Linked DNA regions of Homo sapiens. The protein of the gene in region 4 interacts with the protein of the main gene of each other region in a pairwise test. Each region holds a gene or a part of one and is shown on either strand. Other genes may lie near its edges.

What was found.
Region 1: the proteins of KPNA5 (region 4) and NRF1 interact in binary tests that used the Homo sapiens proteins (3 or more experiments, as listed by UniProt).
Region 2: the proteins of KPNA5 (region 4) and ANP32B interact in binary tests that used the Homo sapiens proteins (3 or more experiments, as listed by UniProt).
Region 3: the proteins of KPNA5 (region 4) and RAD52 interact in binary tests that used the Homo sapiens proteins (3 or more experiments, as listed by UniProt).

What each region holds. Positions count from the first base shown.
Region 1 is NC_000007.14:129,614,597-129,622,261, forward strand, and holds part of NRF1 (nuclear respiratory factor 1), read left to right. Parts: intron 1-7,665. UniProt on the Homo sapiens protein: Transcription factor that activates the expression of the EIF2S1 (EIF2-alpha) gene. Links the transcriptional modulation of key metabolic genes to cellular growth and development.
Region 2 is NC_000009.12:98,000,144-98,007,808, forward strand, and holds part of ANP32B (acidic leucine-rich nuclear phosphoprotein 32 family member B), read left to right. Parts: intron 1-4,820; coding exon 4,821-5,010; intron 5,011-7,665. UniProt on the Homo sapiens protein: Multifunctional protein that is involved in the regulation of many processes including cell proliferation, apoptosis, cell cycle progression or transcription.
Region 3 is NC_000012.12:932,387-940,051, forward strand, and holds part of RAD52 (DNA repair protein RAD52 homolog), read right to left. Parts: intron 5,066-7,665; exon of another isoform or gene 4,700-5,065; intron 4,497-4,699; exon of another isoform or gene 4,421-4,496; intron 3,483-4,420; exon of another isoform or gene 691-3,482; 5' UTR 673-690; coding exon 589-672; exon of another isoform or gene 455-588; intron 420-454; exon of another isoform or gene 1-419. UniProt on the Homo sapiens protein: Involved in double-stranded break repair. Plays a central role in genetic recombination and DNA repair by promoting the annealing of complementary single-stranded DNA and by stimulation of the RAD51 recombinase.
Region 4 is NC_000006.12:116,718,818-116,726,482, reverse strand, and holds part of KPNA5 (importin subunit alpha-6), read right to left. Parts: intron 4,358-7,665; coding exon 4,194-4,357; coding exon of another isoform or gene 4,190-4,193; exon of another isoform or gene 3,159-4,189; intron 2,187-3,158; coding exon 2,108-2,186; intron 733-2,107; coding exon 607-732; intron 1-606. UniProt on the Homo sapiens protein: Functions in nuclear protein import as an adapter protein for nuclear receptor KPNB1. Binds specifically and directly to substrates containing either a simple or bipartite NLS motif.

The DNA.
Region 1 (7,665 bases), on a different chromosome or scaffold from region 4:
AAGTGCCACCGTGCTGGCAGTGGCTTCATAACATGTTTCAAGGAAATTTAGCTCCTGTGTTAAGAGAAGGAGCTATAGAAGTAGAAGATAATGAGGGCCCTTGTCCAGATATAGAAGGTTTAAAGGAGAAAGGATTTCAGGTTTCCTTCTGAATTCCTGTGTATGTCGTTAGGACCCCAAATTGTAGGTTTTTTGTTTTATTAAACGATAATTATGCACTTGTCTAATTTTGTTAGGGAACCGAAGGCCAACTTCCCATGATTTAAATACCTGAATTTGCATTGCCTGCACACTGTAGGTTCAACCAAATCTCTGGGTTGTCTTTAGAAGCATTTTATGTAAATAATCACGAATGAGTGACTTGTTTTAAGGGAAATTTAAGCTCCTGTGGTCTGGGATTAAATTTTTATGCCTTTTCTTGTATGGAATAAGGCATTCAGTAAAGTTGAAGAATAATAACAATGAACAGTAATTACTGAAATTAAAATTTTTCCCTGAGTATTTGAAAAGGCATGCTGATTTTTTGGTTTCTGGAGGAACTATGAACTGTCAGTCTTTAGAAACAGTCTACAGTCCTACCTCAACAGGAAGTTAATGTATACATTCAGCTTCTGTCAGATGTCTTTAGACAAGCCTGTTGCTTCATGCTGAAGCAGGCTTATTCATTCACACAGTGCCACTGTGAAAAATTGAAGGGTGAGGGGAAACTCCCTGGGCTGTTGAATTTCACAAATGTCTACTTTAACCTCAAGAGTTTAGATGCGCCCTTTCTGGGCCAGTAATCATCTAGGAAATGGGATATCTGAATTTAGATGTTTGTGTGTGACTGTGTGATGCTTATTAATATGTATATATAGAGTATTTGGAAAATCAATCTTAAAATGCAAATCTTTGATTTTGTAAAAAACATTTCAGGAAATGTTCTATACTAAAATACATTTTCTTTATGTTCTTTCATGTTTTCCTTGATAGCTAAAGCTAGTGTTTTCAGCCTGAGCTTACCCAAATATAATTTTCCATGAATGCTTAGTAAAACAGCAATGAAAAAGGAATCCACTTGTTATTTTAGAAACATTTTATTTAGACCAAGTCCAATGTTTTTTGAGTCTCAAGATACATGTTAATTTTTGTGCCTTGTGTATCATATTTCCTTCCTTATTAACTAGAGGGTGGATTACCCACTTTCTTGGGTTTTCAGTTAGTACTTTTATCCATCAGTTTTCTACTAAGGTAAACAGACTGGAAGATAAATAGTAAAAGGAGGTGAAACAAATGAATTTCAGGTGTTTCCAGGAGATTAAAACCATATTGAGCTATTGGAAACTTTTAATCCTCAAGCAACAACAATGCTTTGTTTGAAGTTATTTTAGTGCAATATGGACAAAACTTGGGAAAGGAATTTTTGACTGCTCAAGAAAAATAAGTGGATTGCTTATACCTTAGAATATATATATATACACACACACATATATATATTTTTTATTTTTTCAAAAGTGCACTTCAGAATTGGGCTAATGTATTTTCAGCCCAACTTAATGCAGTGTAGTTAGCAAAACATCCAAAAGGCTTCATCATGTTGTGGTCTTTAGGCCTAAAATGTTTTAAAATGTGAACATTTATGTGATACCAAGTAAACTTTCTATGACCCAAAGAAGGGCTAGAAATAAAACTTTACAGAGATGTTCTAGTATATTAGAAAACAATGGCTGGTTATGGTGGTTCATGCCTATAATCCCAGCACTTTGGGAGGCCAAGGCAGGAAGATTGCTTGAGGCTAGGAATTCTAGACCAGCCTGGGCAATGTAGTGACATCCTGTCTTTACAGAATATTTAAAAAAACAAAAAAACGAAAAACTAGCTGGGTATGGTGGCATATGCCTATAGTTTGAGCTATTCAGGAGGCTGAGGCAGGAGGATCACTTGAACTTAGGAGTTTGAGGTTGCAGTGAGCATAATCATGCCATTGTGTTCCTGCCTGGGCGACAGTGCGACCGTGTTTCTTAAAAAAAACTAGTTGCTGTTAAGGTAGGCCTACCACATTTGTAATCTCTTGAGGCAAATCTGTGTTGTTTCTCTAAGAGCAGTCACTTAGAAGATAATCTGACAGTAAGGAATGGTCTACTGAATCCCAGATCTGGTAGTCTGCCTTGCCCAATCACAACATAGTTTGTGTAAAACTCCAACTGCTACTGAACCATCAGATAATTTCTTGAGGAAGCCGTTTCTCTTAAGGAGAAGTGTGTGTGTGTTGGAGGGAGTGTTGGTGGGGAGAAGAGGGGTAAAGAGAAGATGATACTAGTAAAATAATCTAGTTTTGTAGGTTGGGATGATCACTGGAATTTTTTAGGGGAAATATTCTCAAAAAAAGTTGTAAGAGCTACTTTTGTATGGGTTATCAGTTTGGTGATTTAGACTATAGTAATTGCATTGTTTAATATGCATTGTATTTCGATTAATTCATGCATGCTGATTTCTGTGGTAACAAATGTGAAAAGTTTGGCTGATGGCTTAAGTGGACATTTTCTTAAGAACTCTTTAAGTGGTGCCTGTTGGGATAAACTATGCCAAGCCATTTTCTGAATCTTCATGAAGAATGAGCTTTGTATGCATATATATTAAGACAGTTTTTTTTAAAAAGAGCATGTATTTTACTGTTGGTAATTGTAAAGTTTTTGCTTTTTAGAACTTTAAGAGTCCGTTTTGTTGCTGCTACTGAATGCTAATGTGGTTAGGCTGGCAGCTAAACCTACAAAGAACAAGGGGAAATGAGGAAATGTCCCAATGAAACATTGCTTAAAACTGTTTGCGCAGTGGACTAGAAATGGGGAGTTGGGGACTAGGGGACCTGATTCTTGTTTTATGTTCAAAGGAGAGTGAAGCATTCTCTCCATTAAGAAATAACCTCCTTAAGTGTATTCTCACTTTGGAGTTTTGCCACTCATTCATTCACCTGACGATGATTAAAGATATACCACATTCTGGGCATGTACTAGGTGCTAGAGTAACAAATCTTGGGCCTTGTCGTGTAGAGCAGAAAGGTATGGGCTCAACTAGCTATGTTACAACTTCTAGAGAACCAAAATAGAGCAAACAAAGAGTGGTGTGGGATTATAGGAGGAGGGAGAAATTCCTTCTAGGGAGAGGAGAATGATACACAGAGAAAAGTGAGGTTAGGGAAGACTTTTCACATAGGGGAAGTTTGAGTAGGACTTGGAAGGGGGAGTAGCTGCATTACTGATGGAGAAGAGGGGCTGAGAGGAAGGGCATCAGTAGTCTGATTTGAGAACTAGCAAGTGGATTTTGCTCGACTTGGAGAATAGTGGAAAGTGAAACTGATAAGGTTGTGGCCATATTGGGAAGAGTTTGTAATTCCATGCTCATGAGTGTGAACTTTATTCTATAGGCATTTAGGGACCATAAGAGGTTTGAGTAGGACATCCACTATGGTTTTTAAAAAGATGACATGTAAAGATTTGACTAGAGACTTGTGAGAGTATTGAATTGTGATGTAAAAGGACATCGATTCTGGGGATAATTTTTACTTCACAGTTGTCAGATTTGAGTGACAATTGAGTAAAGAGTTAAAGATTATAGTGTGGTTATTGGGTGATGATGATGCCTTTAAGATAGGGAATGTATAGGAAGAACAGAATTTGAGGAGGAAGGTAATAGAGTATGACTCCAGATGTGTTAAGATATCTGGGAATCAAGAAAGGTCAAGTAAGTACCTGGGTATTTGGGCTGGAGCTCAAGGGGACATTGGGATAAATTAGGGGATTTGCATTCATCAGTATAATGCCATATAGAAACTGCAGAAAGCCAGGCATGGTGCCTCACACCTGTAATCCTAACACTTTAGGAGGCCAAGGCAGAGGATCACTTAAGGCCAGGAGTTCAAAACCAGTCTGGGCAACGTTGTGAGACCCTGTTTCTACAAAAATTTAAAAAATTTGTCAGGTATAGTGGTAGCCACCTGTGGTCTCAGCTACTCGGGAGGCTGAGGCTGGAGTATGACTTGAGCCCAGGAGTTTGAGGCTGTAGCAAGCTATGATAGGGCCACTGCACTCCAGCTTGGGTGTCAGTGTAAGACCCTGTCTATAAAAAAGAAAGAGAAAATAGTACAGATTGAGTATCCTTTATCCAAAATGCTTAGGACCAGAAATGTTTTGGAGTTTTTTTTGACTTTGTAATGTTGGTATGCATATAATGAGATACCCTGGAGATAGGGCCCAAGTCTAAACTTGAAATTCATTTGTGTTTCATATACATCTTACAACCTGGATGCAGTTTTATACAATATTTTAAATAATTTTGTGCAGGAAACAAAGTTTTGATTCCATTCTGACTGCAACATGTCACCTGAGGTCAGGTGTGGAATTTTCCACTTGTGGCATCATGTCAACACTCAGAAAGTTTCAGATTTTGGAGCATTTCAGATTTTAAACTTTTGGATTAGGAATGCTTAACCATATCAGGAGTGAAGAAAAAAAACTAAGGGCAACCTTGAAGAGCATCTACATCTGAGGGTCAAGTAGAAGAATAGAAACCTATGAAGTAAGTTGAGAAAGAATGGCTAAACAGATAAGGTTATAGGGTTGAAGAAGCTGAAGAGAGGGATTAAGTGAATACTGACAGGGAAGTTAGCCGTGTGAAATACCACAGAGTTCATTGGTTTGGAGGGCAATGCCGGAGGATCGCTTGAACCCAGCACTTCAAGACCAGCCTGAGCAACATAGCAAGACCTCGTATCTATTAAAAAAAAAAAAATCATTGGGATAAAAACTGGACTTGGCATACGTGTATATATATATATATATATATATATATATATATATATACACACACACACACATATATATACACGTGTGTGTGTGTGTGTGTGTGTGTGTGTGTGTATATATATATATATATATATATGTATTGTTTTGCTGGGAACCATGATAGTTTAGACAGAATAGATTTCTAGAGCATTACTAAATTCAGGGGTAGGTCCTACAGAATCTAACTTAGTAGAAGACCCATGCTTAGAAATAGGTCCTGTTCTTCCATGTCTCTCTGCAATGGGAGTTGCAGCTTAAATGCTTTGGGAGATGACCCCCAATGACAAGGCTGCCTAAAAATCTCCATATTGTTTGGGTTGTTTTTTTTTTTTTTTGCCTCTTTTACATTGTCTTAAATTCTGAGAATTGGAGATTTCATTTGAGTTGACAGTGTCTTAAAATACAAATAACCTCTTGCAGAGTTTTGAGGTTTTATGATATTAATATGTTAAGTATGGGGGTTTTTAACCTGGGGTTTTCTGGTTCTGGGGTTTATATATTTTGGCTGTGTGACCCTGAATCCCTTAAAATTGTTTGAAAAGTTATGTGTGAGTGCATGTGTGATTTTTCTGGGGAGAGGGTCCACAACATTTATGAGATTTTTCAAGGGGGCTGTTGACACACAGAAAAGTCAAGGGCCTTTACTAAATGTTAATGATTAAATCAAGTGTTGGTTGTGTTCGTTGGCTGAAATCAGTTATCTCAACAAGTGAGACAGATCAAGGGAAAGAAATCTTGAGTAGGTGTCTCAGGTGAAGAACTTTGGAAAGATACGAGGAACTTCTTAGAAATGGGAGTAGGAGCACCAGAAGGAAGGTAGGAGGAATGCCAAAGCAAAGCTTAACCGATTTCAGAATTTTGTCAAGTCTCTGGATTGCTTGGTTTTTTTATACTCTAGGACTGACACTTAGTATATGTTTATTCATGCACTGTAGATACAGTAGGCTTTATGGGGTAGGGGAATCAAATCACTTTTTTTTTTTTTTTTTTGAGATAGAGTCTCGCTTTGTCACCCAGACTGGAGTGCAGTGGTATGATCTTGGCTGACTGCAACCTCCGCCTCCCGGGTTCAAGCGATTCTTCTGCCTCAGCCTCCCAAGCAGCTGGGATTACAGGCGCCTGCCACCATGCCCAGCTAATTTTTTATTTTTAGTAGAGATGGGATTTCACCATATTGGACAGGCTGGTCTTGAATTCCTGACCTTGTGATCCGCCCGCCTTGGCCTCCCAAAGTGCTGGGATTACAGGCATGAGCCACCGCACTGGGCCCAAATTACTATTGTTTTAAAGGGAAAGTGTTTTGAAAGAAAACAAATTGATAGATTGTGCTTGTTGGAAAAAAATTTTTCTACCAAGCTGGCTCATCTGTCAGAAAAAATTCATTTTTAAGTTAGGTGTTGCTTATGCTTTGGAAAAAATTTTAAATGCACAAATATTTCAGTCTAGTGATATGGGGCAAGACATTTATTTTCTCCTTGCAAATTTTTTCTGACCATGAAATGAAAATACCGTTGATGGTTTTTGTAGTGTCTTTCTGAAATATGACGATTATGGAATACTTTGAGATCCAGGATGATTTAATGCTAAGAAATTGCTGGCATTCACATTTCTAAAGTCGTGAATAAAATTAAGAAATTCAAGCACATTATGTGTTCACTAGATCTTACTTGATTTCCAAAATATTTCTTTTTGAAATTTTAGATAATTGGTAATTTTTACTTCCTTCTGCTAATCTTTGCATCTTTGAAATTAGATTAGGAGGCAGTTTTGTCAGCTAGGCCCTAGTTTCTGGGGCAGTGATATCCATACTTTTGCTTGCCACCCTCAAAATAAATTAATGCCACTTGGGATTAATTTGTGATTTTTCTGGGGAGAGGGTCTACAACTTTTATTTATTTTACCAGTAGTCTTGGTAAATACAAGAATGATATGAATAAATATGTTGGGTAATCTTAAACTTGTGTTATGTGATTTGTAATTAGCTTGTGTTTGTGGATGATCTTTACATTCAGTAAATCTCCAAAGAGGGCCCAGATAGAATGGAGTATTTTGTCTTTTCCTTTGGGAACTTTTTTTGGTTCTTTCTTTCATTAAACAATTATGAAATAAAATTTTTGGTAACAGATCTTCCATGTAAAAATAGCCCACAAATCAAAGAACTAGCCAAGATTTGCTAAGTAAGAACACATCATGGAATACCATCATAGAACTAGTCTCTTACCCCAAAACTAGCTGTAGGTGCTAAGTCTAAAGAAGAAGTAATTCTGATATGTTACCAGAATTATGTGGTAATGCGACTGAGTGTTAAAATTGTTGTCTTCTTTAATTTTTGGCTCTATTATTTTAAAAGTTTTTCTCCATAGAATTTTTTTTTTTTTTTTTTTGAGATACTATCTCGCTCTGTCGCCCGGGCTGGAGTGCAGTGGCATGATCTTGGCTCACTGTAACTTCCGCCTCTCGGGTTCAAGCGATTATCCTGCCTCAGCCTCCTGAGTAGCTGGGATTACAGGCACCCGCCACCATGCCGGGCTAATTTTTGTGTTTTTAGTAGAGACAGGGTTTCACCATGTTGGTCAGGCTGGTCTAGAACTCACGACCTTGTAATCTGCCCGCCTCGGCCTCCCAAAGTGCTGGGATTACAGGTGTGAGCCACCGTGACCGGCCGAAATGTATTTATAGTGAAAAATTTAGAAGAAAAGCACCCCCCATTAGTGGTTGTCTTTGGTCTATAAGCTTATTAGGTGATTTTCATGTTCTTTCTTATACCTTCCATTGTTTTTCAAGTTATCCTTAATGAAAATGCATTAGCGTTTACGAGCAGAAAAAATAAACATAAATACAGATA
Region 2 (7,665 bases), on a different chromosome or scaffold from region 4:
ATGTGTATATGTATTCTTTTAGAGAGGTCTCACTATGTTAGGCCAGGCTGGTCTTGAACTCCTGCCCTCAAGTGATCCTTCCATCTCGACCTCCCAAAGTGTTTGGGACTACAGGCCTGAGCCACCATGTCCGGCTGAGTCTCTTTATTTTTACATTTCTTTAAGTTGTCCATATTTAAGAGCTTATTTCTCATAAATGTGATGCCTCACCAGTGCTCCATGCATTTTGCCCTTTTTCCTATTACAGGTATACCCAGATACTCGGGCTCTTACTAGTTTTATTCGTTTCCTTCAAACCAACCCCCATTTCCAGTATTTAAGCCGACATTTACTGACTTTTGCTGCATCCAAGGACATGAACATTTGCCCATTGTATCCTTAAGTAACCCAGAGAAGAGAGAATGACTGTCCTCTTTTTAGAGATGAGGAAGCTGAGTTTAGAGAATGTAGATAATTGCTCAGGAGAAATGGCAGAGTAGGGATTCAAATCTAAGTCTAGGCTGGGCACGGTGGTTCACGCCTGTAATCCCAGCACTTTGGGAGGCCGAGGCGGGCAGATCACTTGAGGTCAGGAGTTTGAGACCAGCCTGGCCAACGTGAAACCCCATCTCTACTAAAAATACAAAAAAGTACCCAGGCGTGGTGGCAGGCGCCTATAATTCCAGCTACTTGGGAGGCTGAGGCAGGAGAATCACTTGAACCCAGGAGGCGAAGGTTGCAGTGAGCTGAGATCATGCCTCTGCACTCCAGCCTGGGTGACAGAACAAGACTCCATCTCAAAAAAAAAAAAAAAAAAATTCGAAGTCTGCTGTGTTTTCCATAGCCCTTGGGACCTCTTCTTCTCTTTCCACCTGTAAATTTATTTCATGCCCAAATTTCCTTAAGCTGGGAATTCCAACAGGAGCACCAAATTTTAACTGCTGATGCTTTCCCGTTCACATGGGCTACACTAAGCCTTTGTTTATTGGTTAGTGACAGACATACTAATCCTAGGTTGTGAGCATAAGAAACCCTTCTCCCCGCCACCCCCCTTTTTTTTTCTGGTTTAATTTTTTTTTTTTTTTTTTAGACGGAGTCTCGCTCTGTCACCCAGGCTGGAGTGCAGTGGCGCCATCTCGGCTCATTGCAAGCTCCGCCTTCTGGGTTCACGCCATTCTCCTGCCTCAGCCTCCCAAGTAGCTGGGACTACAGGCACCTGCCACCATGCCTGGCTAAGTTTTTTGTATTTTTAGTAGAGATGGGGTTTCACTGTGTTTGCCAGGATGGTCTCGATCTCCTGAGCTCGTGATCCGCCTGCCTCAGCCTCCCAAAGCGCTGGGATTACAGGCGTGAGCCACCATGCCTGGCCTTCTCTTTTAATTTTTAAAGAACAGAGTAGCAGGCAGTACCTTTTCACTGTTGGCCAGTTGATGACTGGCCATTACCTAGTTCTCGTGGCAGCCTGAATCCTCTGATTATCAGAAGCCTTTTTCAGTGTTGTAGCACACAGCAATGGAGCAGAAGCAAATACTGTGTGGGAGTTGTTTGCTTGAGTTTTTTCCTGATCTGGTCAGTAATGTATGAGAGGACCCTCTGGTGGCTGTGAAAGTCTCAGTCCCCCAGGATAGTGAAGGATAAAAAGTAATCTTCGTTGTGTTCACCATTTTTAGAGGATCTGCTATACCCATACATTTACTGGGTGCTTTATGCATGTTTTATTAGTAATTGTAAAAAAAAAAACCTTCGATACAAAGTGGATAGAAATAGCATGGCCCTTGTTTTATATTGAGGAAGCTAAGGCTTGGGTGAGGCTGAATCCCTTGTCCAGAGTCACACACCCTGTGGCAGAGCCACAGGGCTACACACCAGAGCTATTTCGAAAAGCCTGGGGTCCCGCCATTCTGCTATACTTGGCACTCAGATTCCTGGCGGTGCTAGGTTGGTCTCCTGAAGTTCTAACTTGGAATTAAGTAAATCTGTAGGAGAAGGTGAAGGGGGGAAGAGTTGGGTCCATTTTGACTTCTGGCAGTATTCTTCAGTGGGGAAAAACACCATCCTCATCCTCATTAACCACATACATTTTGAACACCGTCTACTTTGAGCCCAGTTCTTATAGTCAATGCAATGATTGTGAATGCCTCTGCTTGCTACAGGGACATTAATCGAGAGACAAAGAAGGCATCAATTCAAACTTCCTTGGACACCTTTTTTAAGAGACCTGGGCCATCCAAACCATCCCCCAAAGCCCTTCTAAATTCTAAGAAGGCAAGCAAAATTATTGTTAATAAAATGTTTAATGTTTATTATGGCTAGCCTATTAGCTTACATCAAATTTCTGGTATGGTAGAGTTGTAATTTTTTTTAATCAGTATTTACACATTACATTGGGATCCTGAATAATCTGTGTGTAGTGTATTTTGTGCCTATTGGGCCTTAAAGCACAATTTTACTACTTTCAGCAGTTCCAGAGTACTACAGTTATTTGGGATTTTTGTTGTTTTCTTGCTTTCATTTCATTTTTCAAACTACTGATTGGCATGTCCAAATTGTTTGAGAAGGGGTGCTTTGCCAGGAAGTAGCCAAAAATCTCACATAATTGTACAGTTTCAGAAACAGGAGAGCCTTGGAGGCCCTGTGTACTGGAAGAGTCAATGAAACTAGATAGAGAAAGGGCTTTTGGTATTAAAAAGCATTAGATAAATATCAGAGGTTGTATGTGTTTTTGTGCACCTATTTCTAGGAAATAATTCTGAAATATAAATGGCTCATTCCTTTAAGTGGAGAATTTTTAGAGTGAACCTTTTTGGAAAAGCTGCCTAAAGCTGACTCTAGCTGGCATCGAGTCAGCCTTTGTGAAGAGAAAGCCAGTATGCTAGCTAGCCATCTGGGGTGGCATTGCAGCATTTTTTTCCTCTTTGGCAAGAAGTCATACCTGGGCTTCTGGAAGTCAGGGCCTGACTGGAAGGGAAGCTAATCTGAAAATTACATGATACAAAAGCAGCTCTATGACCAGAAGGGCTGGGGACAGCTTTCTTAAAACGTCAAGGAACTGACTATATAAGCACATTGTTTGATCCACAGACTCTTGGATCATTGTACAATTTGTGTTTTGAGGGGTGCAACGTTTTCCTGTTGCTGTAACCCTGCTGTGTGTTCCCTGCATGAATAAAACAAGTGTGGGAGCCTCTTTCTTCATCAAGAAGATGAAGTTCTTCATGTGCAGGGGTCAGTAGCCCTTTTCTCTAAGGGCCAAATAGTAGGTTCATTTGGCTTTGTAGCCTGTTTATATAGTCTCTGTCACAACTAGTCTGCTTGGCCATTTTAGTACATAAGGAGCCATACATAAATAAATGAGTGTGACTGTGTTCCAATGGAGCTTATTTTACAAAAACAAGTGGTGGGCCAGAATTGGCCACTGGACCACCGGTTCCCAACCCCTGCTCTAGAGCCTTGAGGCAGATTTTCACACCATTTTATATCTCCTCAGAACTACATAGATACCTTGAGTTCTGAAAATAAGGTTTTGTTTTGTCTGCATTTCTTCTCAGGTCCTTGTGAGTGTTGTAACAGCTTTCCTAATAAAGCAGCAAAACCTGTTAAGCATCAACATTTATTTTTTTAGAAATTATTTTATGTGGAGGTCCTCTTAAAGTTTGTTTGGGTGTTTTTAGTACTATCTTCTTAGAGAATACCGAAGTTTTTCTCTTGATTCAGAACCATTAAAGGTTGTGTTTATGAAGCTATCCAGATATATGTAGTTATTGCCCCTATTCTGAAAGGCACCAGGCTATGTGCTACTTCACATTGGATTTGCCTTTCATAGGCTGCTCCCTCTTCTATCTACAAGGGTCTGCTGTCACTTCCTGTTGCTGTCTCCTGACTTGCCTATAGTGTAGTACCTCTGCCCTCTCAATCTCTTAATTTACCCTTAATCAAAACTTAATAGACCTGGGATTGAAATACTAGTACACTGATATAATAACAAATGAAGATCTGAGTAAATACATAGACATTTTCCAGTGCACTTTGACTACTCAGAAAACTTGACTTGGGCCAACTTTTTATAGCTTAACTGTTTTTAGATAGATGAAACTGATGGTTCCAAAGAAATGAGGTATTGCAACAAAATTTCAAGGTATGGTAAATAAAATCAGAAGAACTTTACATCATAAAAGTCTGGTAACATGTCAGTCTTTTCCCCAAATACTAAAAAAGAAGAGTGCAATGTTTCTCCGTATTTCCGAAGTTTCAACTCTGCGCCCCTCTGCTTTTTCCTCAGCCCATATTGACTCCTGTCTTCCCTGAAAGTAGCTGCATTGCCACACTTTATATTTTATTATATTTCATCCTCTAGTGTTTCATGTCTGTGCCCTAACTAAAATTGTAAGCACCCTAAGATTGTGTTATAAATCTCTGAATTTTTCCCTATACTGCCACCCTAGAACATTAAAGACCGCTTGATACCCAGGAAGTTCTTAATGGCCATTTGATTACTCAAATGTTAACATTTGTTTCAGCTAAATTTATTAAACTGTTTGATTGTCTCATACTGTGAAAATACCTGGATTTAATAAAAATTATTTTCAATTTATATTTCTTTAGACTACTATGCTGCCAGAAAAACACATAGTTCTCTGGGAGAGTAGATAAAGGAAGAGAGGGACTAAAGTCTAGTAACCTAATATAAAGGTTGCAAAAGACTTGATGTATTTTTCTATATATGAGGCTGAGTGGGTAGTGGAAATTGAATATAGAGCCTAGAATTTTACCTCTTCAAGAGATGGATTTGTTACTTATATTCCTTTGGTTTAGGAGTTGTGGTTTTTGATCCTTTTCTTCAGAAAAAGTTAGAATGTCTGAAAAGCCTGGACCTCTTTAACTGTGAGGTTACCAACCTGAATGACTACCGAGAGAGTGTCTTCAAGCTCCTGCCCCAGCTTACCTACTTGGATGGCTATGACCGAGAGGACCAGGAAGCACCTGACTCAGATGCCGAGGTGGATGGTGTGGATGAAGAGGAGGAGGACGAAGGTGAGTAGGCTCAGCATCTGGTGAACCTGATGTCTGCCTTTCAAAGCCTCTGATAAAAGCTATTGGATGTTGGCCGGGCGCAGTGGCACACAACCGTAATCCCAGCACTTTGGGTGGCCGAGGCAGGGGGCATTGCTTGAGCCCAGGAGTTTGAGACTAGCCTGGGCAACATGGCAATACCTTGTTTCTACAGAAAATAGAAAAAAAAAAAATTAGCCAGGTGTGGTGGCGCACACCTGGAGTCTTAGCTACTCAGAAGACTGGAGGCCGAGGTGGGAGGATCACTTGAACCTAGGAGTTTGAGGCTACAGTGAGCCATGATTGTTCCCCACTGCACTCCGTCTCAGAAGACAGACAGGGTGTCTCAAAAAAAAAAGCTACTAGATGTTCTTACTATTGAGGAAAATAGTGTGTGTTTGTGTGCGTGCGCACGCGTGTATTTTTTGAATGTAGGCATTCCATTAAATTTATAGCTAAGGCCTATTTCATAAGCACCTGGCCTCAAGGGATCCTCCCACCTCAGCCTCCCCAAGTGGTGGGATTACAGGGATGAGACACTGAACCTGGCCCGGGAAGCATTTCCTGAAGTCTACAAGCTAAGTTAGGATGCTGTGCGTTTAAACTGTAAACCGCTTGCTCTTACAGGCTTGCCACTCTGCTGTTCTTAAGTCTTCCTACTTCAGGGGTCTTCAACCCACAGGCCACAGACTGGTACTACTCCATGACCTGTTAGAAACCAGGCCGCATGAGCAGTGAGGAAGCCTCATCTGTATTTACAGCCACTCCCCATTGCTCACATTACTGTCTGGGCTCCACCTCCTGTCAGATCAATGGTGGTATTAGATTCTCATAGGAACGAGAATCCTATTGTGAACTGCACATGTGAGGGGGCTAGGTTGTGTGCTCCTTAGAAGAATCTAATGCCTGATGATCCGAGGTGGAGCTGAGGTGGTGATGCTAGAGCTGAGGTGGTGATGCTAGCACTGGGGAGTGGCTGCAAATACAGATTAACATTAGCAAAGAGGTTTGACTTTACAGAGATGATAATAAATCAATTGCTTGCAGACTCATCAACCCCTATCTGTGAGTGGCAAGTGACAAGCTGCATCTGGTGGCAGGCTTTATAGTGGCAAGTGAGTTGGTGTACTTCAGTTGTACAGCTGTATCTGGTGACAGGCTTTAAGTCAGAATCTGATGCTTTTTTTAGTCAGTGCATGGCCTGCCCATTTTTTTATTTACCACTTCCATCCACACCTCTTTCCCGCACTGCGTATTTGTCTCAGTCACAGTTTTGTTAGGCCCACAAGCTAACTATCCAACATGAGTAAAAAACGTCGCTGGAGAGCTTCTTTGAGAAGGGGGAAAGACCCAATAATGAGACAGCAGAAGACAAGACTGCCAATGAAAAGAAAGCTTCATTGAAAAGAAAATACCAAGAGTGCTACTTAAATTACAGGTTCATTGCAACAGATGATTCACATTCTCCAAGCCCACTTTGTATAATATGTGGCAACAAGCTATCCAACAAAGCCATGAAACCTTCAAAACCACTTCACTGGCTGGGCACAGTGGCTCATGCCTGTAATCCCAGCACTTACAGAGGCCGAGGTAGATCACCTGAGGTCAGGAGTTCAAGACCAGCCTGGCCAACATGGGGAAACCCTGGCTCTGCAAAAATACAAAAATTAACCAGGCATGGTGGTGCACACCTTTAGTCCCAGCTTCTCGGGAGGCTGAGGCATGAGAATTGCTTGAACCTGGGAGGCGGAGGTTGCAGTGAGCCGAGATTGTGCCGCTGTGCTTTAGCCTGGGCGATAGAGCAAGACTCCATCTCAAAAAACAAACAAACAAAAAAAAAACTGCTTCACCACTTGGAGACCAAGCACCCTGCGTTTAAAAGACAAGCCTTTGGAGTTTTTCAAAAGAAATAAACATGAACGTGAAAAACAGAGGCAATTATTGAAAGCTCCCACTTCATCAAATGTGACTGCACTGAGAACATCTCATTCTTAGTGGCTAACTGCATTGCTAAAGCTAAGAAGCCCTTAACTAACTGCATTGCTAAAGTAAGAAGCCCTTTACTATTGAAGAGTTGATCCTGCCTGCTGCTAAGGACATTTGTCATGAACTTTTAGGAGAGGCTGCAGTTAAGCTGCAGTTCAAAAGGTGGCACATGTTCCTCTTTGAGCTAGCACCATAACTAGATGAATTGATGACATAGTAGAGGATATTGAGGCATAGTTGTTAGAGAGGATTGATGAGTCACCGTGGTACACATTGCAGGTTGACAAGTCTGCCGATGTTGACAACATGGCAACAATGCTTGTTTTTGTGCAATATATTTTCAGGAGGATGTGCATGAGACTATGTTATGTGTACTTCGTTGCCAACCAGCACCACAGCTGCAGAACTATTCAAGTCTTTTGAACGATTACATATCAGGAAAACTGAATTGGTCATTTTGTGTCGTATATGCACAGATGGAGCGGCTGCCATGGCTGGACGGCTTTCTGGTTTCACTACTCGAGTCAGAGAGGTCGCTTCTGGATGTGAGTCTATGCACTGTGTCATCCATAGAGAAATGCTGGCTAGCTGACAAATGTCACCTGAACTTAACGTTTTGCAGGATGTGATTAAAATTAACCACATTAAAGT
Region 3 (7,665 bases), on a different chromosome or scaffold from region 4:
TGGGAGGCTGAGGCAGGAGAATTGCTTGAATCCAGAGGGTGGAAGTTGCAGTGAGCTGAGATCGCACCACTGCACTGCAGCCTGGGTGACAAAGCAAGACTCAGTCTCGAAAAAAAAAAGAAATAGAACTGGGTGGCATGCACACAGGGGCAATAGGAAATAGGGAGATTTTCACAGTTTCATTTTGAATTTGATGTCATACAAATATGTTATCTATCCCCCCCCACAAAAAATTTAAAATCTAAATCTAATCCCCAGTACTATCAGTCTTTTGATAGCTAACATTCCAAAATGCCCTCCAGAGTTCACAAGACTCCCAAAAAATGCATCTAAAGGAAAAACCAATAACAAATAGCTCACACATGTACTATGTAAACGTACTAGGTACTGCCCCCGCACGCACCGCGTCAACGTACTAGGTACTGCTCACACACGTACTAGGTAAACGTACTAGGTACTGCTCACACACGTACTAGGTAAACGTACTAGGTACTGCTCACACATGTACTACGATGCTCTACAAACTGCCTTGCCCTAACTTTACTCACTTCACCTCATTCTTTCCCGGCATGAAGGAACCACAGTTACCTGTCCAAAGCATAACACTGAGCCGCCGCCAGCAGCAGGATGGCTGTCACGTCCTCCAAGAATTGCTTCCTCAGTCCCAGACATCTTGATTCTGGTTGACCTCTATATAAATAAAAAGCGGAAAAAAAAAACAACCCTCAAAGAATGTTTAAAGTAAAAGGCAAGAGCCTCTACTGAAAAATCACATAAAGAATCCTTATGCGGCCAGGCACAGTGGCTCATGCCTGTAATCCCAGCACTTTGGGAGGCCGAGGTGGGTGGATCACAAGGTCAGGAGATGGAGACCATCCTGGCTAACATGGTGAAACCCCCTCTCTACTAAAAATCCAAAAAAATTAGCTGGGCATGGTGGCAGGCGCCTGTAATCCCAGCTACTCGGGAGGCTGAGGCAAAGAATTGCTTGAACCCAGGAGGCGGAGGTTGCAGTGATCTGAGATCACACCCTGCACTCCAGCCTGGGCGACAGAGCGAGACTCCATTTCAGGAAAAAAAAAAAAAAAGAATCCCTATGCAATACCCTAAGAGTTATTTATAAGCTTCTAAGCACTGCTCCAATCCAGAACAGAGTTCCTCAGTGGTTAGCTGTGGTCTCTCAAGCTGCTGAAGATTCTTTAAGGTCTACTTCTACCTTTCTGTTAACATGTTTGCTATTCTGGCGGTGCTATTAAAGGTGATTTTTACAATAAGAATATATTACATTTAGAACTATAAAATCAAAATTACAAAAAATTCTTTATGGGAAAGCAAACAAAAAATGTACTATAGGTGGAACATTGCTAATCCAAAAATCCAAAATTCAAAATGCTCCAAAATCCAAAACGTTTTGAGTGCCAACATGATGTGTTATAGTCAAAACACAGGTAATGGCCAGGCATGGTGGCTCAAACCTATAATCCTACCACCTTGGGAGGCCAAGGCAGAAGGACTGCTTGAGCCCAGGAGTTTGAGACTAGCCTAGACAACAAAACCCCATCACTACAAAAAATTTAAAAATTAGCCAGGCGTGGTGCTATGCTACTTAGGAGGCTGATGTGGGAGGATCGCTTGAGCTCAGGAGTTTGAGGCTGCAGTGAGCTATGACCACCCCATCGCACTCCAGCCTGGGTGACAGAGTGTCTGACTCTGTCTCAAAAAAAAAAAAAAACAAAAAAAAAGGCAGGCACACAACACACAGTTTATTCAGCTTCTCCAAGAGAAAAATTCAATTATCAGCCAGACGCAGTCACTGACACCTATAATCCCAGCACTTTGGGAGGCTGAGGCGGGCGGATCACCTGAGGTCAGGAGTTTGAGACCAGCCTGGCCAACATGGTGAAATGTCTTTATAAAAATACAAAAATTAGCCGGGTGTGGTAGTGCGAGCCTGTAATTCCAGCTACTTGGGAGGCTGAGGTAGGAGAATCGCTTGAACCTGGGAGGCAGAGGTTGCAGTGAGCTGAGATTGTGCCACGGCACTCCAGCCTGGGCGAGAGTGAGACTCCATCTCAAAAAAAAAAAAAAAAAAAAATCATCTTTAGGCTCTGAAAACAAATGAATTTCATGTTTAGACTTGGGTCCCCTTCCCAAGATATCTGATTATATATATTCAAATATTCCAAAATCTGAAGTCCAAAACACTTCTGGTCCCAAAGCATTTCAGAGAAGCAATACCCAACCTGTACTAGCTAAGAGGGTAACTGGGAGGTGGTGGATATGTGAATTACCTTGACTGTGGTAATCATTTCACAGTGCATTCACATATCAAATCATCACATTGTACACCCTAAATATATACAATTTTTGTCAGTCATACCTCAAAAAAGCTGGGGGGTAGGGAAGAAAAATCAAGTGAATCTGTTTTAAAGTTTAAAAAAACCGGCCAGGTGTGGTGGCTCACACCTGTAACCCTAACACTTTGGGAGGCCAAAGCAGGCGGATCACCTGAGGTCAGGAGTTCGAGATCAGCCTGACCAACATAGTGAAACCCCATCTGTACTAAAAATACAAAAAAATTAGCCGGATGTGGTGGCAGGCGCCTGTAGTCCCAGCTACTCGGGAGGCTGAGGCAGGAGAATCACTTGAACTTGGGAGGCAGAGGTTGCAGTGAACTGAGATTGTGCCACTGCACTCCAGCCTGGGTGACAGAACAAGACTCCATCTCAAAAATAATAATAATAAAGTTTTTAAAAACCTCAACTTACTGCTCACTACTATATAGGCAGCATGACCCTGGACACTGTGGGGTCAAAAAGAAATAGAAGCCACAATCACTGAAATGCTTTCCAGGAGCTAACAAGATAGCTGGAGGGAGGAGACTTAATAGAAATGAAACAAATGAAGAGCAGGAGGCCCCAACATTCAGGAAGGCTACAGAGCAAAAAGCCACTTCACTTCCTTAACCAGCAGCATCACCATCACCTGTGAATCTTTTTTTTTTTTTTTTTTTGTAAGCGTTTCGCTCTTGTCGCCTAGGCTGCCCTGCAGTGGTGTGGTCTCAGCTCACTGCAACCTTCACCTCCTGGGTTCAAGCGAATCTGCTGCTTCAGTCTCCTGAGTAGCTGAGATTACAGGTGTGCGCCACCATGCCCGGCTAAATTTTGCATTTTTAGTAGAGACAGGGCCGGGCGTGGTGGCTCACGCCTGTAATCCCAACACTTCGGGAGGCTGAGGAGGGCAGATCACCTGAGGTCAGGAATTCGAGACCAGCCTGACCAACATGGAAAAACCCCGTCTCTACTAAAAATACAAAATTAGCCGGGTGTGGTGGTGCATGCCTGTAATCCCAGCTACTCAGGAGGCTGAGGCAAGAGAATCGCTTGAACCCGGAAGGCGGAGGTTGCAGTGAGCCGAGATTGCGCCATTGCACTCCCGCCTGGGAAACAAGAGTGAAACTCCGTCTCAAAAAAATAAATAAATAAATAAATAAATAAATAAATAAATAAATAACTAGAGACGGGGTTTCACCATGTTGGCCAGCCTGATCTCGAACTCCTGACCTCAAGTGATCCACCCGCCTCAGGTGTGAGCCACCATGCCAGAACACTTCTCACATTTAAAGAGCAACTTGTGGCCGGGCACGGTGGCTCACACTTGTAATCCCAGCACTTTGGGAGGCCCAGGCAGGTGGATAACCTGAGGTCAGGAGTTCAAGACGAGCCTGGTCAACATGGTGAAACCCCATCTCTACTAAAAATACAAAACTTAGCCAGATGCAGTGGCGCGTGCCTGTAGTCCCAGCTACTCGGGGGGCTGAGGCTGGAGAATTGCTTGTACCCGGGAGGCGGAGGTTGCAGTGAGCCGAGACCACACCACTGCATTCCAGCCTGGGCAATGGAGCAAGACTCTTTCTCAAAAAACAAAACAAAACAAACAAAAAAAATTCAGTCTTTTATTGAAGGACAATCTTATCTTTGTCCATAAAGTAAATGTGAAATATTTTTTGCCTTTTTTGCTCTTTTACTTTGAAAAAGATGTCTTACTATTCTGCTTTCCTTCCTAAAACTGTCTACAATGGTTTTTCCATTATAAAAGTAAAAAAAAAAAAAAAAAAAATTTAAGAGACAGCGTCTTGCTCTGTTACCCAGGCTGGAATGCAGTGGTGCAATCATAGCATACTGTAACCTTGACCTCCAGGGCTCAGGTGATCCTCCCACTGCGGCCTCCAGAGTAGACAGGACTACAGGTGAGTGCTATCATGCCAGGTTAATTTTTTTTAAAATTTTTTTAGAGATGAGTGTCTCACTATGTTGCCCAGGTTGGTCTTGAACTCCTGGGCTCAAGGAGTTCAAGTGTTTTTTATGTGTGCATATTCGTTAAACAAAGGTAGAATCCAAATGCATTAGGCATATCTTACACAGCACTTCAAATCTTCTTGGCCTTGTGTGTCCTTGAGGCCCTTGGTCACTTTGTCCACTCCAGCTGTCACTGGGCTGATCAAACACGTCTGGGTTATAACCAACTGCCCACAGGCACAACCCCACGGTCCCTTACCTCCTGCTCATACTGGGTACCTATCACTTCCCACCCGTGGCTTGCTGCTTGCCTTGGAGGTGTAAGGGTCTGTGGGACCCACCTGGTACCCACACATGCACAACCTAGAAGTCTATGGGAATTAATGTGCCATGAAGCAAACCTTTTTCCAGTGAGATACAGAAGCTGAGGGGTCCGTCCACCCTTCCTTTAGATGGATTGCCCTGGAATGCAGTTATGTATACATCCTCCTGGGAGACAGCTTTAGGAGAACAAGCAACCAACTGTACTTGCACCAAGGGCAACCAACTTCAAAATGCACCCTTGAACTGACTTAATCTTCCTTCTCCCTTCACTCACCTTTCCCCTACCTCTGCTTCCTGAGAGCACACTTCTTGAAAAAATAATAGCACATACGCTCTTGCCTCAAGCTGTAGGTTCTCCAGGTTCTAGGGTACCCAGGTATAGCAGACACTACGGATGCTCTACTCAGCATCCCTTCAGCTTTTTTTTTTTTCTGAGACAGAGTCTCGCTCTGTCACCCAGGCTGGAGTGCAGAGTGGTGTGATCTCAGCTCACTGCAACCTACACCTCCCAGATTCAAGCAATTCTCCTGCCTCAGCCTACTGAATAGCTGGGATTACAGGCATCCACCACCACGCCTGGCTAATTTTTGTATTTTTAGTAGAGACGGGGTTTCGTCATGTTGGCCAGGCTGCTCTCGAACTTCTGACCTCAGGTGATCCGCCTGCCTCATCCTCCCAAAGTGCTGGGACTACAGGTGTGAGCCACCGCGCCCAGCCATCCCTTCAGCTCTTACCACAATAGTGCACCCTATTCTGACTTCCAAATGCCAACATCTGCATCTTGTTACCTGAGAGCTTTCTTTGGTATCCAGACTACTTTGCACCTGTTTATGGCAAGCTGTAAGCACCAGAAAATTGAACCACCCTGGCAGCAGCCCTCAAATGGTGCCTGACAGGAGCTGGTGTTGAAATACGCTAAATTTCTGACCCCTCTGTGGAACATCACCAAGCCATGAGCTTCTCCAGTGGAATTAGGTTCCCCCGTGGCAACAGGCTTGAAAACTCACCCTTTGTTGTCAAACTTTCCTTTCCTGTCTCCCTTCCCCGCTCCTCTACTGTGTAAAGGACTAATCTCCAAATAAACTACTTGGGAATAAAAAGGAGGGCGGCAAAAGATGCCTTTACAATGTAGAAACCTGGGAGTTACCACCTTAATTATTAAGGAATCAAACTTAATGTCACCAATTACAGTCACATCATGTGCTTCCTGATGGACGCACTAAGAAGGTCCCATCATTGAGGTAGTATTTCTACCAACCTAATCATCAGGAAACAATCAAACAAGTTGAAATCTACAAAGCAACTGGCCTGGACTCTCCAAAGCATCAGTGTCTCAAAAAGCAAAACAAAATAGAATGGCTGGTGAACTCTTTTATGTTAAAAGAGGCTTAAGGCTGGGTGTGGTGGCCCACGCCTGTAATCCCAGCACTTTGGGAGGCCAAGGCGGGTGGATCATCTGAGCTCAGGAGTTCAAGACCAGCCTGGCCAACATGGTACAATTCCCGTCTCTACTAAAAATATAAAAAGTAGCTGGGCATGGTGGCACACACCTGTAGTCCCAGCAACACGGGAGGCTGAAGCAGGATAATCACTTGAACCCAGCGGGTGGAGGTTGCATGAGCCAAGATCATGCCACTGCACTCCAGTTTGGGTAACAGAGCAAGACTCCATCTCAAAAAATAAATAATAAATAAATAAAGACTTAAGAGGCATGACAACTAAATGCACTGTGTGATCTTCAATGAAATTTCGGATCAGGGATAAAGAAAAGCTATAAAGAATATTATTAGGACAATGGGAGAAATCTGATGATGGGATGAATATGAGACTGCAGCCACAACCTCCTGGGCTCAGGTGATCCTTCTGCCTCAGCCTCCCGAGTAGCTTAGACTACAGGTGTGCACCACCACAGCTGGTTAGTGTGATAATTATATCGTGATTCTGTAGGACAATGGCCTATCACTAGATGTATGATTTTGTATGATGCAATATTGGAGTAAAGTGTCATGTTTTCTGCAACTTACTCTCAATTCATTCAACTAATTGTGTGTGTGTGTGTGTGTGTGTGTGTGTGTGTAGAGAGAGAGAAAAAGGCAAGTAGATAAAGCAAAAGTACAAATTTATGAACCTAGGTGAAGGATATGCAGACATTAATTGTAAATTTTTTTTTTGAGACAGTCTCGCTGTGCCACCCAGTGCAGTGAGGCGATCATGGCTCACCGTACCCTCAAACTCCTTGGCTCGTGATCTTCCCACCTCAGCCTCCTAAGTAGCTGGGACTACAGTTGTATAACGCCACACACGGCATATTTTTTATTTTTTGTAGAGACACGGGTCTCACTATGTTGTCCAGGCTGGTCTCAAACTCCTGGGCTCAAGCAATCTTCCTGCCCAGCCTCCCAAAGCACTGGGATTACAGACGTGAGCCACTGCACCCAGCCCACTGTAAAATTTGTCCAAAGGCTTCAAATCTTTCAGGATGAAGTGTCAGGAAAGACTACCTGCATAGCCAAGATTATGGCAGCTATATAAATCCAAATATCCAAACACATGTCCAAAAACTACACAGACCAACCAACCGGAGAAACAAAGAAAATCACCAACGTCTCATATCTTCAACATACTTAGAAGACTGAAAATACTACAAGCTTCTAATTACCCATAAGTAGAAAAACGTCAATTTCTTGTAGAGATGTTTCTCAATCTCTCATCTCAGCTCTTTAAGGACAGCAAAGAGGGATCCAGATAGGAAGAGAGATGCAAAGAAGAGAGAAGAGGGCTGGGCGCACCGGGCGCGGTGGCTCATGCCTGTAATCCCAGCACTCTGGGAAGCTGAGGCAGGCGGATCACGAGGTCAGGAGTTTGAGACCAGCCTGGCCAAGATGGTGAAACCCCGTCTCTACTGAAAATACAAAAATTAGGTGGGCGTGGTTGTGTGCGCCTGTAATCCCAGCTATTCGGGAGGCTGAGGCAGGAGAATCACTTGAACCTGGGAGGCAGAGGTTGCAGTGAGCAGAGATCACACCACTGCACTCCAGCCTGG
Region 4 (7,665 bases):
AAAATATATAATCAGTACAAATACTGTTTCTAAAATATTACCAGTAAAAAAAATCTTGAAACTCAATGGCTTCAAAATGTCAAGGTTTTTGGAACCTTGACATTAAAATAAATTTTTAATTTCTATTCTGTCAGCAAACTTTTCAAATATTTTTCTTTTTACATAGGAAATTAGCTTTTTAAAGACTGGAGAATAGCAAAATATAAATTTTAGAGATGATAAAGCACAAGCCATGTGACTGATCAAAATGGATAAGTAATCACTGACACAAGAAGCTTGATAGAACCCTAATAAATCATTAAAAGCTTTGAGAGGAAGATTATTGCATAACTTATTTAAAACTAATGCAAAAAAATATCTTTCTAAAGACAAACCATTATGTGTCAGGCACTGTGCTAGACACACACACACACACACACACTTGATGTTCTTCACTAGAATACTACAAGTAAATGTTATTATTTTAGAGGAGGAAAGCCCATGTTCTTTAAAATACTTTTTCGGTATCTTTTTAAAAAGGAATCTTTTTTAGTAAAAGTGTTAACTTTTGTCCAAACTGGCTTCTTAGACCTTGCTGTTCTACTCTCAGATCTGAAGGGTAGTTACCTGAATCTGAGCTCTATTTCCAGCAGTGATGTTAGAAACAGTCCAGCAGGCTTCTTTTCTAATTGACTCCTTTGGGCTACTCAATAAATGTAAGAGACAGGGTAATGCAGAACAATTCAAAATTACCTAAAACAAGTTAGAAATGGAAACAAAAAGTTTTATAGTAAATAACCTATATGAAAATCTACTAATGAATTATTTAGATGTACAAAACCCATTCTAGAAAGTGAAATTAAGAAAGGAGAAATTCCTCCCAAAGTAAAACTTGCTGTCTTCTACACGTCTGCTATTGATAAACCTAGTCTCCTGCCACTATAAGGAACTGCCCTGTTCTCAACCCAATAAAATGAAAATCAGAGGTGTATCCTTCATATTTACAAATGTTCTCAGAGTTCAACTGATAAAACTGAAAAAAGATTTGGTGACCGAGGTCAGGATCCAACCTCTAGTTTTGCCAAATGAATTGGTGAAAAAAATACATATATCATACAGTCTGAGAAAATCCAATTCTACAACCATTAAAAACAGCATGTAGAATCAATTGGCTTCATAAAAATTTTTACTATCTTACTCTTCTTCTGTAAACAAGTATATTCTGCATTGTCCCTTTACATTCTTTATTCCATTGCAAGATTAATTATGTTCCTATATTCAAAATACTCCAATGATTTACATTAAATTCATCTGGTGAAGAAGTGTGGAGCAGTGCACTGGAAATCCAACTGAAAATTACAGTATATGTCTAGAATGGCATTTTCATTTCAAGAGCTATATTAAATGAATAACTGTCAATTACTAAAGAGCAACTATTTAATAACTATGATTAGTATCCAAATAGGCCTTTAAAAGGATAAAACTGAAAGAAAATATGTAGGTTAGAATAAAAAATACACTGTAAGGCGGTAAACAAAGGAGAATCTAACGTGTTAAATAATTTAAGTTTCTATCTTCAAGAAAGATTGTGCTGGACATACTGGCTCATGCCTGTAAGTCTAACGCTTTGAGAGGCCAAAGCAGGAGGATCACTTGAGCTCAGGAATTTGAGACCAACTTGGGCAACATAGCAAGACCCTGTCCCTAAAAAATAAATAAATAAATAAATTAGCCAGGTGTGGTGGTGCACACCTGCAGTCCCAACTACTTGGAAGGCTGAGGCGGGAGGACTGCTTGAGCCAGGAGGACTGCTTAAGCCAGGGAGGTAAAGGCTGCAGTGAGCCATGATCACACCACTGCACCCCAGCCTAGGAGAAAGAGCAATATCCTGTCTCTAACTAAACTAACTTACTAAATAAATAAAAAGATTGTAACCCAAATCTGGCTGGAGTCAATCTTGACAGCACATCTTCTTTGACATCTCACCATCCTCCAAGACACAGATACAGACACACACACAATTATGGTGATGCTAAAATCTTGATTAATATGTAATCAAGTTGTATGAAACATAAATTTTTTAAAGTCCTTTATGTTAACAATTTATGATACTCAAGTTTGAACTCACCTGTGTTTGAATATCATCACCAGTCACAATATTACCAACTGCCCTTAATGCAGGTGATACAACTTTATAATCATTGTGCCTAAAAATAATAAAAACATGAACCTAAATACTAGTAAGAATTTAAAATTTACACAGAAGTTACAAAAATACTACAAACTCCTGCGGGGTGTTCAGCCAAAGATCCCATTGAAGTTTTACTAATTATTCTGATAATCTTTATAACAAAGGATCTAATCCAGGATCGTTCATTACAGCCAGTTTTCATGTCTCTCCAGAATGATTTCTCAGTCTTCCCTTAATTTTCATGATTTTGCCATTTTTGAAGATCATAAGCCCATTATTTGGGTTTATCCAATGTTTTTCATGATTAAGACCCAGGTTATATACTTTGGCTGGGGGATATCGTAAGTGCTATAACCTTTTCATTATATCCCAATCTGTTTTTTCCCATTATATTGGTACTGAATTCTGGTCACTAATTATGATGATGTCTGCCAGACTTTTCCATTTTACCATTATTGTTTTCCCATTTATAATTAATATAATTAATATTTTGCAACAAAATACTTTGAGATAATGCAAAATCCCACTCCTTAACCTACTTTACCACTAGATTTTAGCATCTCTTGATGCTTATTATCTGAAGTATTGGTAATTATTAGTATTATTACCAGTGATGTATTTCTAATACTATCATTCTAACTACATGCTTTAGTGTGGACTTATGGGTTTCATATTTTATTCAATAAAATATACATTAATGCAATTTATTTCAAAGCACAAACTGTCCCAGGTTTGGATAGTGAGAACCCCTTCAAATAGGCTTCTGTGTTCTTTTGACATCTGTCCATTACTTGAGCACTCATTACTTCCTGCATTCATCTTACATTTTTCTCAGTCCCAGTCCTGAAACCAGTCATTTCTCCAACAATCTTGGTTCCTTTCAATGGAGAGTAGTGTTTAGAAACTTCGATTTGAACTTCAGTTTCCTCAGCTTATTAATGTAGAAGTGTTACTGTTCCCATGCCCTTCAAGAGGATGCACACACACATACCTACACACATGTATATATTTATTTCCATACCTAGCTATGTTAAGAGCCATGAGTTCACACTGATATTTCTAGTTCTAATCTAAAATAATTAAATTATTCAGGCTTTCTCCTCTTCTATATTTTTATCTCTATTCTCCGATAACAGGAAATAGCTTCTATTTTCCTAACCTCCCTATATCAGCCAATCTTTTACCTCAGCCAGACTGGTACCCCATGATGTGCTGGCTCCAAGTCCTGCTCCAGCCTGCTTATCTGCTCACCCCAGTGGGTGTCATTATCAAGTTGGGGCCCTGATCCCCCATGCTGAACCTGCATGCCCACCCTCCACTGATGCTATCCTCATGCTGGGACCCCCAACTCCTTATCAGACCTATCTTTGTGCCATCTACCTTGTTTGGGCCTACAATGGCTTCTCGACAAAAGAAGAAAGGAAGGAAGATAATACATTTTTTAAAGAGGGTAAGTAGATGAAGTTATGAAGTTACAACATCTTTTTAAAACAAGTTTTCTTCAACGTTTTTAACTTCTTTGTATAGAAAAGCTGTTCTTTTTAAGGAAAATAGCTATAACAGCCCAGCAAAGAGAAACATGTTATCTTTAATAGAGGTGAAATACTAAATGATTTTCACTACATGGACTTTTACTCAAATTAATTATTATAATGAATAATAAACTAGATTATTTGTTCTGTGAGAGGAGAAACTGTGTTCTATACTTCATTAATGTCTCACACAACACCTTAGCAGATAACAGGCATTCCATAAATACTTATTAAGTTTATCTAATTCATAAAGAGATCACATTAAACTAAGGAAATTCATTTACAAAATAATTAGTTCCAACTATAGGACATAAGTTCCAAATTTTAGGGTCAACTTTCTAGGATTATGGCTATTCTGTTAAGTGTTGGGTCAGTAGCTTTTTAATTTTCCCTGAAGACAGTGACTCTTGAGATATTTACAAAGCTATTACTTGAATTGCTAATTTTAATCTCAATCATACAATTATTAAGCATAAATTATTTATAGTTACATCAAAAGTTCCACCAATCTTCGACAGACTCCAGAATCAATGACTGCTTGAATTTTATCATTGGGTCCATCGGAGAGATAAGAAAGGGCCCAACACACGTCTGCTAACACATCTGGGTCACTGCTAAACAACAGTCGTGACAGGACATTTAAGCAAGGTGAAACCTGTAAGGGAAGAAAGAGCATATTTAAATTTTTTCTCTATTTAAAACCAAGTTTCCTTAGAAAAATATAGAAATTCATTTTAAAACAAAAATTTAATGTTATAAAAATACCAGAAAATTTATATTGTTTTAAAATTATAATCAGATGTATGAATATGAAGCTGATTATGACTACTATTATGTTATATTGAATAAGATATGTAGTTAAATTTGTTTTAAAAAATAGTAAAATATTTGAGATCTCTTGTCTGTGTCTAAATCACACACACCCCCACAAAAAAAGCATACCAAAACTGAGAAGTTCAAATGTTCCAGTTAAGTGTTTGATATGATGATCACAGAATATAATCTAACTTTAATGAGCCTCACTGTACTCATTACATGTACTTAACTGGAAATAAATCTAATAATCATTTGAGGAACTAAGGTACAGAAAGTACAAAAATAAATATATTTGTGAAGGGTACTCAAGTGGAAGTCATTAATAAACTATTACACTGATAAGAAGGCATGTAGCACCTAAGAACAGTGCCTGACATAGAGTAGGCACTCAAATGTTGGCTTTTTTTAAATTCCCATGATCACTATTGATGCTATGTTCCTTAAAGCTGTTTTTTTAAAATAAGCAACCTAACATATCCCTTAGTCTTTCTCCTCAGTTAAGAAGTATGTTAAGCTGGGCACGGTGGCTCATGCCTGTAATCTCAGCACTTTGGGAGGCCGAGGCGGGTAGATAACTTGAGGTCAGGAGTTCGAGACCAGCCTGACCAACATGGAGAAACCCGATCTCTACTAAAAAACAAAAAAAAAGAACTATGTTATATGTTATGTATCTCACAAATAAAAAGTGATGACATTTTTCTTAAATGTTCTAATATTTTAGATGACTTTTCTCTTTACCCCTATTTTAAAGAATATCAGTATATAAACGATCCTCTTCTGAAAGCAGTTACCATCTCTGCTGGGCCTGTCCTCTAAAGATGATTTTCAAGATTATCAGCATATAAACTATCCTCTTCTGAAAGCAGTTACCATCTCTGCTGGGCCTGTCCTCTAAAGATGATTTTCAAGATTATCAGAATATATACCACATTTTCTGGAAGTAGTTACCATCTAAAGATGACCCTAGGACTCATGTACACAAATCAGTTAGCTTACATAATAGGTATGTCTATCTGTTAGTGGGCAAATAAAATCAGCACAACTGGATCCTTCTCCAGCAATCAAGCTTCCACCCTTGCCAACCACCTCTTCCTTGAACAGAGAAATCAGGGTTTGTTTTTCGTTTTTTGTTTTGTTTTGTTTTTGAGACAGGGTCTCACTCTGTTGCCCAGGCTGGAGTGCAACCTCTGCTTCCTGGGCTCAAGCAATCCTCCAGCCTCAGCCTCCTGAGTAGCTGGGATCATAGGTGTGAGCCACCATGCCCAGCTAATTTTTGTACAGACAGGGTTTCACCATGTTGCCTAGGCTGGTCTAGAACTCCTGTGCTCAAAACAATCCACCCACCTCAACCTCCCAAAATGCTGGAATAACAGGCATGAGCCGCCACACCCAGCCAAATATCGGGTTTTTGAAGCAAATATAAAGTATGTTTAAAAAAATTAATATAGCTGACATATACCTTTTCGCTGAGTTAAAAAACAATGAACTAATACCTATTTCCAGTATTAAGTGAGCAAAGTAAAAACATTTCTGCCCCAGTATCTTCTCAGGAAAAAAAAAAAGAAACAGAAATACAAATTCCAACTTTGAAAAGGCCAGTAGACATTAATAATCCTGCCCACAATATATAAAGACAAAAGTGAATAAAGAAACAGTAACCGACTTAGAAGAGGGGAGAAAAGTGGAAGCTTAATGCCAGGAGAGGGAACTACCAATAAGAGGAAAGCTAATTTATCTCCCCACCATCAACTCCAAATGCTTAGAAATCAGAGGAACCAGGTATCACAGACAGCAGGGGAAACGGTGCTAAAGTAGAGGAAGAGGTTAAAAATCTGATAAGAAGCAGGATAGACTTTGGGTCCCTACTACAAAGGTAGGTGACTAGCATTCTCAATGCTACCAAAGACTGGAAGTTTATTTGAAGGAGAAACTGGACAACAAAATGTGAATCACAGAAACAGAACTTTGGGATATAAAGCACAGTGGAGGTTGAAATGAAGCACTAGACTAGAAAGTAGGAGATAAGTGTAAGTCTGCATACTGACTAGTGAAAACCTCTAGCTCTTTCCCAATACTCAGTTCCCAGATGTTTATTATTTGTATTTTTTATTTTTGAGACAGGGTCTTGCTCTGTTGCCCAAGCTCAAGGTGCAGTGGCATGATCACAGCTCACTGCTGTCTCAACCTCCCAGGATCAAGCAATCCTCCCCATCTCAGCCTCCTGAGTAGCTGGGAGTACAGGCATGTGCTACCACAGTCAGCTAATTTTTTAAATTTTTTTGTAGAGACAGGCTCTTACAATGTTGCCCAGGCTGGCCTCGAACCCCTGGGCTCAAACCATCCTCTCACCTCAGCCTCCCAAAGTGCTAGGATTACAGCATGAGACACAGTGCCCAGCTGCAGGATATGTAGTAGCCAGGTATGTTACCTACTCTATACCTCAACCCAATCTACCCATCTTCCAGCAAAAGAATGCAAAATCTGTCTCTAAAAAAACTGAATGGTCTCACAAAAGAGACTGAAATTTAGTGTTCCTCTAAGAAAATATGGTTTTGCTGCCCAATTATCCTACAATGAAGTCCATTTATACACTCATTTCCAATCAGTTTTTAGTTTCTTCCGAAATTTGTTCAAAAATCACCAGATAAATGAAGACAGCCTCCAACATTAAAGTGATTAAGACAAACCACAAACAAAACAAAAAAAGCACAAAGAAACAAAGATGCCAAAAAACAAACAAACAAATAACACTATAAATCCTTAGATATGACAATTTGCTGGGTCCATAAAAGAACAGAATTCTACATAAAGATGAGCAACCAGAGAGCAAGACAACTACTTATTGAAAAGATAAAATAGGATTGTAGAAATGAAAATTTCCGGCTTGGTGTGGTGGCTCATGCCTGTAATCCCAGCACTTTGGGAGGCTGAGATGGACAGATCATCACCTGAGGTCGGGAGCTTGAGCTGGCCAACCTGGCACCAGCCTGGCCAACATGGTGAAACTCCGTCTCTAATAAAATATAAAAATTAGCCAGGCATGGTGGCAGGTGTCTGTAATCCCAGCTACTTGGGGGGCTGAGGCAGGAGAATTGCTTGAACCCGGGAGGCAGAGGTTGCAGTGAGCTGAGATCGTACCACTGCACT